Linked DNA regions of Homo sapiens: region 1 is linked to region 2. Evidence: fine-mapped expression QTL. Tissue or cell type: whole blood. Region 2 holds a variant in brackets; the other region holds the start of a gene. All regions are shown on one strand. Distances are from middle to middle.

The links. PIP is the estimated chance that this variant, and not a neighbour inherited with it, causes the effect.
Region 1: it holds the start of MAK, and the variant in region 2 is fine-mapped to the expression of MAK in whole blood (INTERVAL, PIP above 0.99).

Annotation. Positions count from the first base shown.
Region 1 is chr6:10,837,033-10,839,715 of GRCh38, forward strand. It overlaps MAK (male germ cell associated kinase), which reads right to left and starts at 1,507. Exons shown (of 15, transcript NM_001242957.3): 1 at 1,471-1,507. RefSeq lists a silencer at 1,570-1,699 and enhancers at 1,920-1,979, 2,030-2,189.
Region 2 is chr6:10,757,682-10,760,364 of GRCh38, forward strand. It overlaps a transcript of TMEM14B not described here. Among named protein-coding and RNA genes, the nearest start is that of TMEM14B, 11 kb to the left of the region's middle. The variant TTG/T (reference allele first, on the strand shown) is at 1,253.

The sequences.
Region 1 (2,683 bases), 79 kb after region 2:
GATAGGATTAAAGAAGATTAGCAAAGAGGGCAAATGAAGGGTAAAACAAGCGTCTGCCAAAAACTGAAGAGATAAGGCTTGGATGTCTTCAACGTGGCTTTCTAGAACATATTATGTCACTCCGAGGCTGGCTTAACGCTTCTAATACACAACAAAAGAGTAATTAACGTTTTAAAAGTCACCAAACTCTTTAAAAAGCAACGCAGGAAAAAAAGATCCCAAACTAACCAAGTCGAAGTTTTACAGAAATTAAATGAGCTATTACAATGGGAAAACAAAGACTGTATCTTAAAATATAAAAGCACAGTTCTCTGTGCTCATATTCACAAATTATTTCAAAGCTTATACACAAAAAAAGTCCACCCCGACGAAGAGATTAAACGTCCTGCCCGGTGCCTGCAGTGGAAGCAGGCGGTGGCGCGGTTGGGGGAACTTTCTCCCTCCCGGTCAAGCCTCGGGAATTGAAGGGCCGGGGAGGCGGGGCCCGATCGAAAAGCTGGAAAGTCACTTTTGTTTTCACCATTATTTCACTTAATGGGTTGTGTTTCTGAATAAATAAAGTCAGATAACTTTGGCTTCCCTCTTTGAGAATTCCGTTATCATTAGAACAAATGTCTGTTTCTTTTAAACGATTATCTAACCACATTTGCATACAGCTCTTTCCTTGTAGGATTGAGATTACTAACCACTAAAAACCAGTTTTATTGCTCTCGACACCGCACTCTCGACCTGTCCCTAAATTAAAACGGATTACTTGCAGAAAAGGGACAGTTTTCGTCACACACTTTCTGATCCGACTCTGCAAACCAGGGCTCTTAAAAGGCTCCAGGGACCGCGTGGTGGAAGGAGGGGGCGTCCCCGGGCGCCGGGAGTCCGGCGCCGTTGGGGGGGACGGGGGTGTGCGGAATTCCACTTTCACCTGAGCGTCCTTTGGGATGCACCAGCGAGGGCTGGAGTCGGACCTAATTCCTGTTTTTCTCCCTCCTTTTAGATTTTGCAACAGTTCTGAACTCAGTTCCGCTGCCTCCCTGAGACCCAATCCTGCCTCTCTGTCCTAAAAACAGTTTCCACCGCCAGCCCAAGCAGCAGGGGAGCAGAGGTGGGAGATCCCGGAGGAGAGTTTAGGGGCGGGGGTCTCAGGCTAAGGGACGCCCGGCCGTCATCCTCCCACGCCAGGCCGGCCCCCGCGGTCCAGGAGGCGGGAAAGTGGTCAAGAGGTCTGGGAGACACCGACCGCCTTCCCTCGGGCTGACCACTCCCGCCCGCTCCGCCCCTCCGGGGACCCTCCTCCCTCCAGTCCTTCCCCTACCGGCGTCAGGGACCGGTCTCCGGGCGGAGATTGGCCCTGGTAGCACAGGGCGCCGAGGGGACATGCCCGGCCAGCCTCGCAGGTCGGGCTCCGGCTGGGTCGGACAGAGGGTGGTGGCCCTGCAGCCCGCTGGGGATTACCTGTCCGCGCCTGCTGCTTACCTCGTTCGCTCCCTTGTGAAGCTCCGGCGTCTTGTGTGTTTCATCTCCTAGGAAACGGCGGGGGCAGCAGGCGGGCCTACGGCCGGCCCAGAGAGGGCGTGGCCTCGCGGGAAATCCCCGCCAATTCCCGCAGGCCCCGCCTTCCCCGGGGCGGGGCTTCATGGAGCCGGGGGACTGTCGGCTGAGCTGCAGCAAGTGTGCCATTTAGACTTGGGGTTTAGGGGAGTTGATTACCTTTTCAGTCAGGTCTTTGTCAGAAGTTGGTTTGTTTGCCCTTTATTTTGTTTTGGTTTTGTTCCGATTCATTCTACAAAGTCTTGATTAATTAAAATATGGTTCCCAGACCGGGCAGAGCAAGAGAAGGAAGTCTGTTTGCCTCATACTTGCACTTGTTTACTTGTGCCTGGGGAAAAACTGTTCTTGTATGCAGTTCCTTAAATTGGTCAATTCCTTGGGTATGTATTACCTCTTGAGCTGCCCTTCTAAGTTTGTTTCCATTTATTCATTCAGAGAACCTGCCTAGTATCAGCCACAGAGTTAGATAGTGGTAATTCCAAGAAAAATGACTGAATGTGTGAATAAATGGGTAAATTGTAACTAGTCTAGAATTTAGAGAGGAAGGCACACTTGTGTTACTGCAAATAGTTCAGATTGGCTGGCAAAAAGGGTCTACGAAACAGAAACATAAGTGATGAAGCAGTGGTGCGGCAAGTTAGTAATTATTAGGTGTCAGGATGTGGGCTTGGGACCAAGAATAGCGCCAAGGTAGACACGACAGACATGCCTGTGGCCCTCACAGCTTAAAGTGAAGTAGGCTTTCACGCGTATGTTTATGGCAGCACAATTCACAATTGCAAAGATGTGGAACCAATCTAAGTGCCCATTGACTAATGAGTGGATAAAGAAAATGTGGTATATATACACCATAGGCTGCTACTCAGTCACAAAAAAAGAATGAAATAATGTCTTTTGCAACAACTTGGAAGAGTGGGAGGTCCTTATTCTACGCAAAGTAATACAGGCGTGGAAAACCAAAAACTGTATGTTCTCACTTATAAGCAAAAGCCAAGCTATGAGTATGCAAAGGCATACACAGTGAAATAATGGACTTTGGAGACTCAGAAAGGGGAGGATGGGAGAGAGCCTAGGGATAAAAAAAACTATGCACTAGGTACCATATACACTACTCAGATGATGGGTGCACTAAAATCTC
Region 2 (2,683 bases):
TTTCATTCCCTCTTTAAAAAGGTAAGGAGCTGGGCGCGGTGGCTCACGCCTGTAGTGCCAACACTTTGGGAGGCCGAGATGGGTGGATCACCTGAGGTCAGGAGTTTGAGACCAGCCTGGCCAACATGGTGAAACCCTGTCTCTACTAAAAATTCAAAAATTAGCTGGGTGTGGTGGCTCATGCCTGTAATCCCAGCTATTCAGGAGGCTGAGGCAGGAGAATTGCTTGAACCCAGGAGGCTGTGGTTGCAGCGAGCCGAGATCACGCCACTGCACTCCAACCTGGGCGACAGGGTGAGACTCTGTCTCAAAAAAAAAAAAAAAGATATTTGCTACTGATTTACCCTAACTGATACTGGTTGAGTTTAGAGTATAATTCAGACACTTTATGTATTTGCATAAGCCCCTGGATGGTGGTCCTAGTTTTCCATCCTTTTTTATAGGACTCTGGACAATTAAGGGCTCTTGTGTTGCAGTGGTAGAGGCATCAGAAGGCCACAGATCATCCAAAGCTATCATCCTCCCAGGCTTCCATAGCTAAGATTTTGAGTCTCAACGTTGGCCATTTTTTCATGTGTCATGGAGTGTTTCCAAAGGGCACACATTTTTGCCACCTTCAGTCCTAGAGGAGGACCTGGCTCCTCATGAATGACAAGGTTCCCTGAATGTGGGAATTAGTTTAGGTGCCAAGTAGATCCCCATGTGACTATTTGATCCCCAGCAATCAGCCTGGAAAATTCTAAGGCTGCCCACAGATGAGAGGCAGGAGATCTTCATAGCCCTTGCCAAGTGCCCTCATCCCTGCTTCTCTGCAAAGATCCCTGAGTATTTACTGCCTAAGGGTTGTGCTGGGTCCTAGCAGTGCAAAGAACAAGCCATGGTGCTTGCCCTTCTGGAGTCTGGTGGAGGAGGTGGACATCTAAACAAAGGCAGTATAGAAATAAGTGTATGATGGAGGTAGATCCATATTACTGTGGGGGCACAAGGAGGGGAGTGGGCATTTCTGTTGAGGGAGTCAAGGTAGGCTTCACAAAGGAACCAACAGTTAAGCTGAGTCTTGTCAGTTGATGCATGAATCAGTTGACATGAACTCCTTTTGTGAGTTGTCTGAGAAATTCATAGGTAAGGACGGGGCAAATGTCTCAGAGCGAGCAATATATACAGTGCCTCAAAGGCATGAAACTATGTAGCATAACTGGGTTCAACCCTTTCCTTAGAGATCTAATTCTTTTTTTTTTTTTTTTTTTTTTTT[TTG/T]AGATGGAGTATGGCTCTTGTTGCCCAAGCTGGGGTGCAATGGTGCGATCTCAGCTCATTGCAACCTCCACCTCCCAGGTTCAAGCGATTCTCCTGCCTTACCCTCCTGAGTAGCTGGGATTTCAGGTGTGCACCACCACACCCAGCTAATTTTTTGTATTTTTAGTAGAGATGGGGTTTCACCATGTTGGCCAGGCTGGTCTTGAACTGACCTCAGGTGATCCACCTGTCTTGCCTCCCAAAGTGCTGGAATTACAGGCATGAGCCACCGCACCAGGCCAAGATCTAATTCTTTTTAATGGCTTTTAAGTTGTACGGATGATTACTATTTAGTTTACTATTCCCCTACTGATAGAAATATGTCTTGTTTAATGCCTTTGATAGCCGGGAGCAGTGGCTCATGCTTGTAATCCCAACACTTTGGGAGGCTGAGGTGGGCAGATCCCCTGAGGCCTTTGATATTACAAAGGATGGTGTACCAAGAAATATCCTCATGGAAATCCCCGTGAACATGTGCAAAGGAATCTGTAGGTTACATTCCTAAATGCTGAGTCAGAGCATCTCAGCATTTAAAATTGTGATTGCCTTCAGAAGAGGATGCACCAATTTATCCTCCCACTAGTGGTGGCTTTGTGTAATTGGACTTTGTAAAAATCTTTGACACATTAAGCTGGAAGTCTGCAAACTTGTTCTGTAAAGGGCCAGATAGTGAATATTTTAGGCTTCTCAGGCCATCTGTGTCCCAGCTGTTCACCTCTGCCTTTGTAGAATGAAAGCAGCCACAGCCAATCAATAAACGAGTGTGACTGTTCCAATAAAACTATGTATGGGCCCTGAAATCTGGATTTCATATGATTTCTACATATCACAAAATAGTCTTATTTTGATTTTTTTCAACCATTTCAAAATGCAAATCTATTCTTAGCTTGCTCTCTGCACAAAAACAGGCAATGGACTAGAATTGGCTCACTGACCATAGTCATGCCTGTAAGAGTTAAAGAAAGAAGAAAGAAACATGAAACGTGGCTTTGTAGTCAAAGACAGGTTTTCTTTACTTAAAACCTGAGAGGCTTCCCGGCTAATTTCGGTTAGGAGCACTTTCTCTTACAGACCCTGCACTTGATGGATCACCTGGCACCGCCCAAATTGATAAACTGGCTCATCTGATCTTGTGGCCCCCATCCAGGAACTGACTCAGTGCAAGACAACAGCTTGCACTCCCTATGACTTAATCTCCCACCGGACCAGTCAGCACTCCTGAGTCACCTGGCTGCCCCTGGCACACCAAGTAACCCTTAAACACTTCAATCCTTGAATGCTCTGGGAGACTGATTTGAGTACCAATAAAACTCCAGTCTCCTGCACAGCTGGCTCTGCGTGTGCTCTTTCTCTATTGCAATTCCCTGTCTTGATAACTCAGCTCTGTCTA